Homo sapiens: one gene and its partner. The protein of the gene in region 2 interacts with the protein of the main gene of each other region in a pairwise test. Each region holds a gene or a part of one and is shown on either strand. Other genes may lie near its edges.

What was found. Proteins that work in one complex are often made in the same cells at the same time.
Region 1: the proteins of STX17 (region 2) and ACSL3 interact in binary tests that used the Homo sapiens proteins (3 or more experiments, as listed by UniProt).

What each region holds. Positions count from the first base shown.
Region 1 is NC_000002.12:222,926,768-222,934,574, reverse strand, and holds part of ACSL3 (fatty acid CoA ligase Acsl3), read right to left. Parts: intron 7,559-7,807; coding exon 7,386-7,558; intron 5,714-7,385; coding exon 5,639-5,713; intron 3,955-5,638; coding exon 3,763-3,954; intron 1,410-3,762; coding exon 1,295-1,409; intron 46-1,294; coding exon 1-45. UniProt on the Homo sapiens protein: Acyl-CoA synthetases (ACSL) activates long-chain fatty acids for both synthesis of cellular lipids, and degradation via beta-oxidation.
Region 2 is NC_000009.12:99,909,178-99,916,984, forward strand, and holds part of STX17 (syntaxin-17), read left to right. Parts: intron 1-2,978; exon of another isoform or gene 2,979-4,974; intron 4,975-6,000; 5' UTR 6,001-6,062; coding exon 6,063-6,185; intron 6,186-7,807. UniProt on the Homo sapiens protein: SNAREs, soluble N-ethylmaleimide-sensitive factor-attachment protein receptors, are essential proteins for fusion of cellular membranes.

The sequences.
Region 1 (7,807 bases), on a different chromosome or scaffold from region 2:
TCCTTTTGATTTGGCACAACAAATCCAATGACATAAGAATGATAACTGAAATATAGAAAGGATAACAGATAAGGAACAAAATGGTGAACTGTGTTGACTGCAGTTATTATTACAGTGACAAGTAGTAAATAACTCCTCATTTTTTTTAAAATGCATGTGCCATACTTGGCACTGGCATATCCATTTCATGCAACCGCCAGTTTTACTGTTTGATTCATAATATTTTCCAATGCTTTGGCAGAGTTCGTTGCTAAATAAACTTCAATCTGACATTTCATGATGAATTTCAACTATGAAAAACTGTTATGAATACTGCCATGTACACATTTTAAAAGAAAGTTACAAATATTAGAATATTCACCTTTAAACCCTATCAGTATTTCATAGCATGTGTTTTAAAAAACTAAAATTTAACATAAATTAAAAACTATCTTAAAAATTCAGCAACGAATCAAAATGATGTGAATATATTCTTTTTTTTCTTTTGTTATCATCAGAATTTGTATTGATAGAGGAACTCTGACTATGCCCAACGAAGGCAAATACTTTTTTGAAGGCCATAAAATAGTAACATCAGGAAGAAGATGCTTCTGGTTACTATCACATGAATAAATCCAGATCTGTATCATCACTAAAGAAAATACTAAATGGCTAAAGACCAGAATCATTTATAAATAAATGCAATTCATTTCTAACTTGGGCTGTACCCCCAACATCTGTTTCTAAATTAGTTTTCCTGATAACAGATTTTATTTTCCCATAATAATTCATGTCAACTGTCGTAGACAGGTCCCCAGCTGCCTCTTCATCATCATGAGGTGGGGAGGCTGTGTGTTTAGGCTGCAGCTTAACACAGCTTACATAGGAGCCCCAAGACCTGCCTGGAGTGCCGAGCAGGCTCAAGTGTAGAGCAGGAGTAAGTAAGCAGCACACTCCTCACTGCCACTTCTTTACTCCCCATTCCTCTGGAGTAGTTCTGTGAAGCTTCCCCTGCTGAGGGACAGGTAGGTAGGGGTACCAAGGCAGCAGGAAGGAAGGTTTTATTTTCTTCACCTCCCTCCATGGGACACTGCAGTGAGACGTAAAGCAGAAAACAGGGACAGAGAGAAAGATCAGGGGAAGCCTTACAAGGAAAAGAGTCAGCTAATGGCTGCAATGAGAAGGAGGCCATTCCCACAAGTAACAGATAGGAAGAGTTCTCGGAACATTTTTACAAAGAAGGTCCATACAGGTAGGAAATGTCTATGGACATCAAATATTTTAAGTAAAAGTAGTATGAATTCCACGTTCTTACCTGTTTGCATATGCACAAATGTTATCTACTAGTGGAAGATTCTTCAAAGCTGCCTCTACTTTCCCAAGAGAAACATATTCCCCTGCCTGTAGTTTTACAAGGTCCTTTTTACGATCTGCAAAACAAAGAAAGGTGGAGAGGGGAAAACAATGAGTAATAATATTAGTAACATTTAATACATATATAAATACTGGCCATTCTCTAAGTAATTTGCTATCAAATTATTTAAAACTTTGCAAAATTAAGCATTAATGGTTATGCTGAAATTAAAAGCACATATTAAAATTAGGCCCTAATTTTTGTACTGCTAAATACATGCTTTTTTTTTTTTTTTTTTTTTTTTGAGACGGAGTCTCGCTCTGTCGCCCAGGCTGGACTGCGGACTGCAGTGGCGCAATCTCGGCTCACTGCAAGCTCCGCTTCCCGGGTTCACGCCATTCTCCTGCCTCAGCCTCCCGAGTAGCTGGGACTACAGGCGCCCGCCACCGCGCCCGGCTAATTTTTTGTATTTTTAGTAGAGACGGGGTTTCACCTTGTTAGCCAGGATGGTCTCGATCTCCTGACCTCATGATCCACCCGCCTCGGCCTCCCAAAGTGCTGGGATTACAGGCGTGAGCCACCGCGCCCGGCCCATGCTTTTAAAAGAAAAACAGGCCAGGTCCAGTGGCTCATGTCTGTAATCCCAGCACTTCGGGAGGCCGAGGCGGGCACATCACTTGAGGTCAGGAGTTCGAGACCAGCCTGGCCAACATGGTGAAACCCCGACTCTACTAAAAATACGAAAACTAGCTGGGCGTGGTGGTGCACACCTGTAATCCCAGCTACTCAGGAGGCTGAGGCAGGAGAATTGCGTGAACCCAGGAGACAGAGGTTGCAGTGAGCTGAGATGGTGCCACTGCACTCCAGCCTGGGCGACAGAGCAAGACTACATCTCAAAAAAAGAAAGAAAGAAAAACAATTAACTTCTACTTAATGGACTCCATTAGCAGGGCTTCAAGTATGTTCTTCTGAACAGGTTTATTTCTGGTATCCATTAGTACCAGGCAGGTGAAGAAGATATTCAATGCCATCTGCAAGTTCACAACCTATCTGGAGACATGCATAATGCAAAAACGTATTACTTCAATACATTGGTACTACAATGGTAGCGCTAAGTGTTAAGACTCTCCAACCTGGGGATTTGGAAAAAATTCTTGCAAGTGAGGCCTGAGCTGAGGGTTGGATGGTTGGTTGGTTTTGAGATTTTGAGACAGGGTCTCACTCTGTTGCTCATACTGGAGTGCAGTGGCACAATCACGGCCTCCTGGGCTCCTGTGATACTCCCACCTCAGCCTCCCGAGTAGCTGGGATTACAGGCCTGAGTCACTATGCTCAGCTGCTTGAGCCGAGTCCTAAGGGAAAAGTGAGAGGTCAGGTGCAACAACACTGGCAAAAGCCAGAAGAACATCAGCTCTAATTTCAGCTGCATCAAGGAGGAGGAGGAAAACAACTGACGATGAAGGTGAAGAGGGGAACAATGTTAACAGGGGCACCCTGAACTGAGCTTCTAGGAGACATTAAATGGTTGTGGCCAGTAAGATCCATGTTTAGTAATTACATGGTGGCAGTGAGAGGGTGTGTTTAAGGGGGTAAACATGGCAACAGAGAAATTATTGGGAGAGGGTGGCAGAAGGTACAGGCCTGACCAATGATCAAGTAAGAGAGACAAAGAGAGAAGAGTATGATTTTGAGACATAGCTCATAAAATAAACTAGTGGGATATAAAATAGGCATGGGAAGCTGACTGAAGAGAACAGTCTTGAGTCTCCTCCCAGGTTTCTAGTTAGCAAGACAGGGATAGAAATGCCATTAACTTTTTTTTTTTTTTTAGACAGAGTCTTGCTCTGTTGCCCAGGTTGGAGTGCAGTGTCGCGATCTCCGCTTGCTGCAAGCTCTGCCTCCCGGGTTCATGCCATTCTCCTGCCTCGGCCTCCCAAGTAGCTGGGATTACAGGTGCCCGACAAAGACACCACACACGGCTAACTGAAATGCCATTAACTTTTAAAAAAAAAGAACCTAAAAGGAGAAGCAGAATAAGGTATTTTTCAACCCATATGAGTCATAGTACTTGAGCTGCCTGGCTTTCCTCTATTCTCCTGGGCAGGGCAAGGCAAGGGTGCAGTTCAGACTGTGAGAGCTCCATCCACTAATCTCTAGATGTCAGAAACACAGGCAGGAAACAATGACTGAAGGTTATCTAAGAGTAATTTAAAATACCACTGCTGCTGAACCATCTTTGAGAACTCATAACATGTCAGGCCTCATAAATTCCACAGTCCGTAATATTTTATATTCCAGGAGTGATGCAACAACCCAAACTAAGATTACATAAAGATTTATATTATTCAGCGCCTCCTCTAAATATATTGTGCTTCTTGTGTAAACTATTTCAGAAACATTCATTTTCAAAAAAATATTAGATGACTTACCAATAATCTTTAAGCATCCATCGGGTTCAAACTCTCCAATATCCCCAGTACAGAGCCACCTTTGTCCATTTTCATCTTCAAAGAAATCAGCTTTTGTTTTTGCTTCATTTTTGTAGTACCCCATTGTCACACTTTGGCCCCCAATAAGAATTTCACCCCTGGGGTGTGGCTTATCAGTATTAAAGTATCCACCTAATAAAATAATAATTGAGTTAATAGTTGAGTTAAATACAACACATGAAAATTTGAAACTACTAGTTTCTAAACAGTCATCTTATTTTAATCCAATTAGAACTTCCCAAAGGAAAAAAGGCAGACACTATGAATGAACAAAGTTTATCAATTTAACAGTAGGCACAAAATCTCAGTTGCTAAACCATAAGTATTTATGTTTTCAAACTTCTATTCTGAGAAAAAAATTAAACTCTAAAACCCAACATCTTCCATTTGTTGTATAAAATTATAAATACAAGAGACAAATTATTTGAAAGATTCTGCAACATCTTAAATATCATATTGATAAACTGACAGAAGTATTAAGTCATGCAATTAATAGAACAAATCCCTATATAAGAATGAGTTACTGCTGGGCCAGTGGCTCATGTCTGTAATCACAACACTTTGGGAGGCCAAGGAGGGTGGATCGCCTGAGGTCAGGAGTTTGAGGTCAGCCTGGCCAACATGGTGAAACCCCACCTCTACTAAAAATACAAAAAATTAGTCGGGCATGGTGGCGCACACCTGAAATCCCAGCTATTAGGGAGGCTGAGGCAGGAGAATCACTTGAACCCAGGAGGTGGAGGTTGCAGTGAGCCGAAACCATTGACACTGCACTCCAGCCTGGGCAACAAGAGCAAAACTCCGTGTCAAAAAAAAAAAAAAAAAAAAAGTGAGTTACTACATATTAAGATTTATTCTTATAGATAATTTCAAAATGACTCCAAGCCTAAATTTATTAAATATTCCCACTAATTCTGCTAAAGATAGCTAAAAGACATCCAAGCCTTAGAATCTTTCTTTATTTATTTATTTTGGAGATGAGAGTTTCGCTCTGTCACCCAGGCTAGAGTGCAGTGGCGCAATCTTGGCTCACTGCAACCTCCACCTCCCGGGTTCAAGTGATTCTCCTGCCTCAGCCTCCCGAGTAGCTGGAATTACAGGCACGCACCACCACGCCTGGCTAATTTTTGTATTTTTAGTAGAGACGGTTTCACCATGTTGGTCAGGCTGGTCTCGAACTCCTGACCCCATGATCCGCCCGTCTTGGCCTCCCAAAGTGCTGGGATTACAGGAGTGAGCCACTGCGCCCGGCCAGAATCTTTATCTTTACTTAATGTAGAGGAAAGGTGCATCCCAATAAAACACAGATAATTTGTATATTTTAACAGGATCAAATAAATTTTTAAGTGACCATTATTTTAAATGGCATGAGAATAAACAGACTTCTATGGAATTGCAGTGAAAATTTCCTTCTAATAATACAAGGTTGAAGCCCTCAGAAAAAAAAAGAAAAAAATCATTTAAAAATCCACAATTTCATAAAATAAATTTTATAATTTTACTTCTGCAAAATAAAGTTATGATCACTCCTAATTTATTGACATTATTCACTTATTAGTACATTTCTCAAGTTTTTGCCATAATTCTTACTTGCATCTACGTAATAAGTAAAATGAAAACAATAATAGTTCTTCAGAAACATCTTTGAAACAAGAAAAATAAATGCATTCATATAGTTCGAGATAAAACACGTCTATCACAAAGGACAAAAATGAGCACTTATGGGTGTTTACATTCTAAAGCAAGAAAGTGAAGCACTAATTTTCAAGTTTAATACTTTAAAAATTAATGCTCTGTGGTTAAAATAGTTTATTACCTTCCTCCCAGTTTTTTAATTTGATTTCACAGCAAACTAATGGTGCTCCCACTCTGCCAGTATTGTAGTCCCACACTAGGAATTAAATGAAAAAAAGGATATTTGAGAACAGTAGCTAATACACTGCTTCATTTTTCTAAATTACCAAAAATGATTATTTATCCTAAGGCTGAGGTATCCCCAGCTATTCCTTAAAAGCAGAAGTCACATATTGGTGAAGCACAGGCCGTGAGGCCTGTAGAGTCGTATTTTTTGGCCTACATTGAGGTTTTTTTTTTTTTTTTAAATTAGTTATTGTCATTCTTAAAAAATCAGGAAATTTTAGATGTAAGTGTGGAATCGCCAGCAACAATGGGCCCACATTTCAGGTACAGCAGAACTGACGGCCTCTGTTAGAGAGGGCATGCCTGCTCCTGTTCCCTCAGAATCAATCCTTACCCATCACATTGTCTTACATTAGGGCCCACTTGACTCATTTAAATAGGTAGCTGCCTGGTTCTTGAGTTTGAAATCCCTGTCTTAAAGGATGATGAAAACAATGGTTTACGTCTATTCTACTTTCTTATTAGGCCTCACCGATGTGCAGTATAAAACACCTCTCTAATCTTTTCCCATGTAATGTATCACCATTTCAAAGTGAGATCTCTGCAGGCTTCCATCAGCTTATGCTATCACACCCTATTTAAAATTAATACAGCAATAGCTCAAGAGCCAGGCTGAAGAATAAGACTGGTGGCTTTCAAGGATGTGAGGAAAGAACCCTCCACTATTATGAATTACTATTGCATTATGTTTCCTCTTCAAAGACCAAATATCAGAAATGAAAGGCTGATATTTAACATTTTAAAGACTTTTATTTAAAACATAAACTGTTACTGATTAATCATTCAATTTGAATCTTAAAAATAGAAGAAATTAAGGATCCTCAGAAGAAAGAAATCCCCTATGCATGTATTTAAGATTGCTTATTTCCTACAAAACATGACTTAGAACTAGCTTCCAAAAATATACGAAAACAGAGAACATAACTGAAAAACAGAAAAATGAAGTAATACATGAAAATGGTATACAGAGCCACTCAAAATAAATAGGGAAAAATCAGTCATGAGGTTTTGTATCTATCCGTATATGGCAAATACAAAGTAGGAGAAGCACAGCTGTATCCTGTACCGGAAAGCAAAATAACTTTCTCCCATAAAAGGGACGCATGAGGCCCTATGCGATTCATCTCAGAACTGCTGATTAGTTGGTAGATCTCCTCCTCAAACACAACCACATGATAAACTCTGGTAATAATATTCCCTAGACCAGAACTTAGTTCCTTCTCTAACACTTACAGAAATCCTCATAAACATTTCTGAACCTGAGCCTTAATATACTCACCTACACAAATAAACAAAAGCACCTTAAGTTTTCTACATAAAAAGAAATTTAATCACTGATGTGAGAAAATAAATGTACACAAAACAGTCAGTGTTTGTTACTAAAGTTTCTCTTCCAAAATGCTAAGTGGTTTTTAATATTACCTATCAGTTTGATATAAAAACTTCTCCAGATAAATTATTGACTCCAGATGCATCTAATACATTCTAAAAATTGATATCAATGATCATAGTACTTGGAATCCACCATTATTCTGCCTCACAAACACCTTACTACTCTTCTCCTATATATTTGCAGAAAATATCCCATACCCCAAAAAAACGTCTGGCATCACACTCCAGCCTCTGACCATGGAGAACACTACCTTCGGAAATTGTTCCAGCCCCAGCAGATTCAGTGAGCCCGTATCCCTGACCAACAGGACAGCAGAAACAGATGTTCATGAATCGCTGCGTGGTTGCAGAAAGTGGAGCGCCACCACACAACAGGAGACGAATATTTCCCCCTAGCAAGCTTCGAACTTTCCGGAAAACAAAGCTAAAGAAAAAAATTAGAGAACCACAGGATTTTAAAACTGAATGGGATTTTCCAAATCACTTAAACTAATCCCCCAGTTTTGATATGAGAGATTTTGAGATTAAGTTACTTATCCAAGGTCACACAGCCAATTTGGAGAGTCTCTTGAGCCCCAAATGTTAATTTTTTGAAGTTCAACAAGGTAAAGAATTTATTATTTCCTCTTAAGAGCTTTTCAAGTGATATTCGAATTTGAATTGTCAGGTTTAG
Region 2 (7,807 bases):
TTTCTAAAGTGGCTTAGATAATTTTTCTTCCTCACTTCTTTCAGTGTGGTTATGCTATTCGTTTATAATACAGTTTATGTTTTTATAGTTTATATTCCATTTTGGAGGGAAAGAGTCTAAAGGTAGACTAATTGAAGCTCCATTATCATGGCTATGCATATTGTGCTATTTGACTAGAGTGATAGGATTAGCAATTGTATAGAAGGGACGTGTGAAGAAATATTTTAGTTCAGGCAGCATCTATTGAACAACAGGTGTGTTCAAAAAACATTTTGATAGGAATGATGGTAGATATAAAGATAATCTCTTTGTGGTATAGAAGAAAAGAAAAGAGGCAGTGTGATAGATTGGGAAATGTTAATGTTAGACAAATAATTGATACATTTAACATGTAATAGCCTTTTATGAGTTAATAAGAGAAAGACATCCCCTGTAGTAAAAACAGATGCATATGACATGAACAGGCAATTCATGAAAGAAGAAATGCAATGAGTACAAAAAAATAGTGATAGAGGATGAATAAAATATAGTACTTGATAGCCGAACAGGGTGACTATAATAATTCAATTGTATATTTAAAAATAACTAAAAGAGTATAACTGGATTGTTTGCAACACAAAGAATAAATGCTTGAGGTGATGGATACCTCATTTACCCTAATGTGATTATTACACATTGTATGCCTGTATCAAAATAACTCAAATATCCCATAAATATATACCTACTACTAATATATACCCACAAAAATTAAAAATTAAAAAAAGAAGAAATGCAGCTGGGCATGGTGCCTCACACTTGTAATCCTAGCACTTTGGGAGGCCGAGGCAGGTGGATCACCTGAGGTCGGGAGTTCGAGACCAGCCTGGCCAACATGGTGAAACCCCGTCTCTACTAAAAATACAAAAATTAGCTGGGCGTGGTGGCACGTGCCTGTAATCCCAGCTACTTGGGAGGCTGAGGCAGGAGAGTCACTTGAACCTAAGGGGCGGAGGTTGCAGTGAGCTGAGATCGCACCACTTCACTCCAGCCTGGGCAAAAGAGTGAGACTCCGTCTCAAAACAAAAAAAAAGAAAAAAAAAAAAGAAATGCAAATGGCTGATAAATCCACCCTGTTAGTAATTTAAGGAATGCAAAGTAAAGCAATAATGAGACATCATTTTTTTCACCAATGACATGTCTAAGAATGATAATACTAAGTATATTGCTTGGAATATGGATAAATGGACATTGTGTTATGTTTCTGGTAGGAACATAATAGGCATAACCTTTTGTGGGATATGGCTATATATATGTTTTAAAAACCTTGAAAAATCTGTCTACCTAATAATTCTATTTCTAGATATTTATTTTTTATTTTTATGTTACTTTTTTCAATTAATACACAATAATTTTACATATTTATAGGATACATGTGATGTTTTGATACATACATACAATGTGTAATGATCAAATCAGGGTATTTGGGATATATATCATGTCAAACATTTATTATTTCTTTGTGTTAGGAGCACTTCAGATCTTCTAGCTATTTTGAAATATGCAATAAATTATTGTTAACTATAGCTACCTCACTGTGTTATTAAACATGAATAATGTATTCCTTCTATCTAACTGTATGTTTGTACCCATTAATCAACTTCTCTTCACCCCTCCTGCCCCTTCCCATCACTCTACTCTCTACCTCCAGGAGATCAACTTTTTTCCCCCTTTTTATTTAGAAATGGAGGTCTCATTATATTGCCCAGGCTGGCTTCTAATTTCTGGGCTCAAGTGATCCTCCTACCTCGGCTTCCTGAGTAGCTGGGAGTACAGGCTAGATGTTCCATCCATGTTGTTGTAAATGACAGGATTTCATTCTTTTTTTTTTTTTTCTCCCTAGACGGAGTCTCGCTCTGTTGCCCAAGCTGGAGTGCAGTGGTGAGATCTGGGTTCACCGCAACCTCCGCCTCCTGGGTTCAAGCGATTCTCCTGCCTCAGCCTCCGGAGCAGCTGGGAATACAGGTGCATGCCACCACGCCTGGCTAATTTTTTGTATTTTTTAGTAGAGACGGGGTTTCACCATGTTAGCCAGGATGGTCTCGATCTCCTGACCTGATCGGCCCGCCTCCACCTCCCAAAGTGCTGGGATTATAGGCATGAGCCATCGCGCCTGACCCATTCTTTTTTTTAATGGCTGAACGGTATTTCATTGTGTATATACACCACATTTTCTTTATCCAGTCATCCATTGACAGACACTTAGGTTGATTCCATATCTTGGCTATTGTGAATGCTGCTGCAATAAACATGGGGCTGTAGGTATCTCTTTGATATACTGATTTTTTTTCCTTTGGATAAATACCCAGTAGTGGGATTGCTGGATCATATGGTAGTTTTATTTTTAATTTTTTGAGAAGCCTCTGTACAGTTTTTCTTTCTTTTTTTGAGACAGGATCTCACTGTGTTGCCTAGGCTGTAGTGTAGTAGTAAGAACACTGTTTCTTGCAGGCTCACACTTTAGGGCTCAAGGGATCTTCCCACCTTGGTGTCACTGGGACTACAGGCACCCACCACCACACCCAGCTAATTTTTAAATTTTTCAGAGAAGAAGGATCTTGCTATGTTGCCCAGGCTGCCCTCAAACTCTTGGCCTCAAGTGATCCTCCTGCTTCAGCCTTCCAAAGTGCTGGAATTACAGCTATGAGCCAGCGTACCCAGCCCATACTGTTTTTCATAATGGCTGTACTAATTTACATTCCCACCAACAGTGTATAAGAGTCCTCTTTCTCGCCAGGCGTCGTGGCTCACGCCTGTAATCCCGGCACTTTGGGAGGCCGAGGCAGGTGGATCACCTGAGGTCAGGAGTTCGAGACCAGCTTGGCCAACATGGCAAAATCCCGTCTCTACTAAAAACAAAAAATTAGCTGGGCGTGGTGGCATGTGCCTGTAATCCCAGCTACTCAGGAGGCTGAGGCAGGAGAACTGCTTGAACCCGGGAGGCAGAGGTTGCAGTAAGCTGAGCTCGTGCCACTGCACTCCAGCCTGGGTGACAAGAGCGAAAATCTATCTAAAAAGAAAAAAAAAAAAAGAGGCCTCTTTTGCTACATCCTCACCAGCATTTGTTATTTTTTATCCGTTTGGTGATAGCTATTGTAACTGGGGTGAGATGGTATCTCATTGTGGTTTTTATTTGCATTTCCCTGATGATTAATGATGTTGAGCATTAAAAAAAATACCTTTTGGTCATTTGTATGTCTTCTTTTGAGAAATGTCTATTCAGATTCTTTGCCCACTTTTTAATGGAACTATTTGTTTCTTTGCTGTTGAGTTGTTTGAGTTTCTCATACATTCTAGATATTAGTCCCTTGTTGGATGACTAGTTGGCAAATATTTTCTCCCTTTATACAGGTTGTGTCTTTGTTGATTGTTTTAAAGAAATAATTATAGGCAGCAGTATGGATTTATGTGTAAGCAGGGTAATTACACTGTAGTTTATAATAGTGGAAAATTAGAAACAACCTAAATAGCCAATAATAGCCAATTTGTAAAATTGTGAAGCATCTACGTAATTATAGAAAATTATTTACATGGAAACATTTTTATTATACTTCATCACACTATTCAAAATAAATGTTTTATTTTCTTTGTTCTTTCATCCACCCATTTATTCTATCCGTTAACAGTTTATTCTATTCATTGCTCCTTGCTATTCCACTCCTTTGGGTTTATTTTCTTTATTGTTGAAATATTCCTTTAAGTACTTTTAATGAGGGGCTTGGTAATAAACTCTCTTAGTCCTTGTATGTCTGAAAATGATTATTTTGCTTTCATTTTAAATGATAATTTACCTGGGAATATACCAACTCTCTCAGCACTTTGAAGGTATTTCTGTCTTTTAATATCTTGCTTTTAAAAGCAATATATTATTGCTTTGTCAGTCTTTTATGTCTCATTTTTTTAATGATTCTTGTTCTTTAATGTTTTGCAATTTCCCTTCCATGTATTTAGGCAAATTTGGTTTCTTTTTAATGTATGCTACTTGAGGCTGATGTGCTTTTTCAGTTTGAGGTCTTACATTTTAATTATCAGTATATTCTCTTTGAATAATTCCTTCTTACTGTTTTCTTTGTTCTTTCTTTCTGGGACTTCTACTTGTTATTAAGCTTCTGATTTTATCCTTTATGTCTTTTATCTTCTTTTTTATACTTTTCATCTTTTTATTCCTCTGTGTTCTGAGTGATTTCTTCCAATCAATAATTGTTTCTTATCTATATAATTTACTGTTTAACACATCTTTTGAGATTTTCATTTCTAGAAGTTTTACTTGTTTTATATTCAGGCTGGCCTCTTACTGTTTCATAATATCTATTTTTTTAAAAGATTCTGTTCCTTTTTGGAATAGAATGTTTTTGGATATTTAAAAATATACTTACTTTAGTTTCTTTTTAAAATTATTTTATTATCTTTCGTCCATTAGGTATGAATTTTCCTGTTTTGTTGGGTCTGTGGATGGTCTCTTTTGGTAATGAATTTCTCCATATGTCCCCAGTTTCCATTCACTGTTGCACCTGTTTTACCCTCTTTGTTTTTGTACCTGGAGATTTTCCTTTTTGACTTTTGAGCCTTGTATCAAACATAAAAACCAAGTTACTAATGGGTAGGTATTGGAGGCAGTCTATATAACCAACACATCAAGATTTTCAACTGTGAAAGAAAGGGGATAAATATTTAATGTTTTGGGGATGATAGATCTCTGAGAATCCCTTGAAACAATGGACTCTATTCTCCAAAATAAACTATATTCACTTTTTTTTTCTTTTTTTTTTTTTGTAGAGATGGGATTTTGGCATGTTGCCCAGGCTGGCCATGAACTCCTGGGCTCAAGTGGTCCTCCCGCCTTGGCCTCCCAAAGTGCTGGTATTACAGACATGAGCCACCGTACCCGGCCCCTTCATTCACAATTTTTCATAAAGATTCAGTGGCTCCACAAAGTCTGTATGTGAATTCCTATCTTTATAGACCCTGGACTAAGACAGCATAACTCAGCAGTATTAACATACTCAACTTAAAATTTTTTAAACATGGGTGAGGTTGTGGCTAATGAAATGGCATGAAAGCATGGTGTACAATGGTGGCTTTCAAGCTTGGTTAAGCTGTGAAGCCCATTATTTATATAAGCTCTGATAAGCTCCAATTCATAAAATAGTTGTAAGTAAAGTTTCTACAACTGAAGTAGGGAGTGGAGTCCTGGAACCTACTCACCTCTAGCCCCTACGCTTGTACTCTGGCCCCAAATGCATACCCTTGGACTTTCTGGAACACTAGTAGGAAACTACTGGTGAAGTGGAAAAAGTATTTCAATGTAATTTCAGAAAATCTGGGTTCTTATTCCAGCTCTGTCACTGGTTTTTTGAATCAGTTGTAGGCAATACTAATCACTTTATTGAAAATGGAAGAGGCAGTTTAAAGCACATCAATGAGAAAAGTTGCATATTATGTTATCATATATTTGAAGTTGTGTAATTACAAAGTTACATTATGATGACATTAGACATGAAGTTTGATACAAGCATCAGTGTTAAGCCATTTGATACCTTTTTTAAAAAGGTTATTCAATGTCCAAGATAGATCAGAAAATGAAAACTTGGACAGTATACTCCTAGCTTTTTTAAAAGTATTTATATACATACATACCTACTTACATAGAAAAAGACCTGGAGAGACGTATGCCAAAATGTAAAGAGTACATTTTGTACTCTTTGTAAAAGGTGAGGAGATGACTGCTGACTTTATTTAATTCTTCATTTATTTATATTGTCTGAACATTCTAAAATATAATTTTTGTAAAGAGAAAAAGATTTAAAAATCAGTGGTTTCATAAAGAAAAAAACAAGTCACTCAAGGTCAGCATTAGAAATATTCTATTTATTGATTTAGAATAAATTGTAAAACTAATCGTTGGCTTTTAAAAATAGTGGAAACAGATTTGAAAACATTCTTAAAGAAATATTTTTCTTTTAGGTTTTTCTATATGAGTGGAGAAGACAGCTGTTACCAGGGAGGTCATACAACATTTTTTTAGGATGTCTGAAGATGAAGAAAAAGTGAAATTACGCCGTCTTGAACCAGCTATCCAGAAATTCATTAAGATAGTAATCCCAACAGACCTGGAAAGGTTAAGAAAGCACCAGATAAATATTGAGAAGGTGAGCTGTTTCATTTACTACCACAAGAAATAGTTACATAGTTTGATTTATATTGGTTGTTCATTTCAGCTAAATTTAGAATATTAGATAAGAGGCATTGCTGAAACACCTAGCTCCTATTGATTTAGCAACATTATGCATTTTTTAGCTGGTTTTTCTGTTCTGCATATATACCTCTCATATATTCCTTTTTCTGGGAAGGGATATAGGAATAGAGTCTATGCTTTTTTGTTTGTTTGTTTGTTTGAGAGACAAGGTCTTGCTCTGTTGCCCAGGCTGGAGTGCAGTGGCATGATCATAGCCTACTGCAACCTCAAACTTCTGGGCTCAAGCTATCTACACACCACTATCCGTGGCTAACTTATTTTTATTTTTTTGGAGAAACAAGTTCTTGCTTTGTTGCCCAGGCTGGTCTTGAACTCCTGGCCTCAAGCTGTCCTCCTGTTTTGCCTTCCAAAGTGTTGGGATTACAGGTGTGAGCCGTGGCGCCTGGCCAAGTCTATACCTTTTTAATTGTACATATTGAGGTTTTAGGCAGTTAATAATTAAGATACAAATTGATTGATGGTGCACTATAATGTAAAGGCAGAGAACTTTGGCTAATGTACCTGCCTTAATTTCATTCACCCCATGGCAAGTTTTTGAACTTTGAGTGTGTGTCTTTCAGTAACTCGTATTCTCTTTAGGTATACATACATTAAAGAAGTAAATCATTGTGAGATATGAGGGAATTTCCTTACTTCACAGCTTCCCTTTGAGGAAAGCTCACAATTGAGAAGTACTGCCTAATTCAGTTGAGGAAATAGGTAAGGAGAAGATGAATTAGTCTCAGGGACTATGATAGAGGTTGCATAGAACCTACCATGCTCCGGTGAAGTGGCTGTGGCATTTTTGGAAACATCAAGTTTACTCAGTACTGAGCATTAATTTGGCAGATTATGTTGTCTTATTTGCTGTGGGACAGGCCAGTGATATTTTTTGTTTCAAAAAGACTTTTCCCAGCATAAGTCTTAAGCTGCAGAACCTCCATTTATTTATTTATTTATTTATTTATTTATTTATTTATTTATTCATTCATTCATTCATTCATTCATTCATTCATTCTTTTGAAGGTTGGGAGTGGAGGATATGGTCATTAAGCCTTTCAATATAAACATTATTCATTACTCAACTCAGTAGCATATAGAAGTCAGAAAAGTGTACCTTTTTCTTCCATAGATACCATCTGTCTTTCTAGAATTCAAGTCCTTTTAAAAGTGGAGAAAATCAGTTCTGAGAATATTAAAATGAAAAGTTTAATGCGAATATTTGAAGTCTTTCTAGAATTTAGGATTAGTATTTTGTCATCCTTGAATTTCTTCTTTACTTACAAGCAATAAGTAATACTGTGACTTTTAAGGATGGATAAGGAGTTGTTTAGTAAATGGGTTCTTTTTAACATGAATGGAAGCAAATTAAGGCCATTTCTTTCCTTTGTTGTCCTACTTTTCCTTTGAGGTTTGGCATGTCTGTCTTAGATTTCCTTTTTCTTATGTTTATTCTATACAAAAATGCCTGCTGTCAGTACCCTCAGATCCTTGCTACATGTACCACCCAATCAGTCATCAATGGAAAAGCCAGGT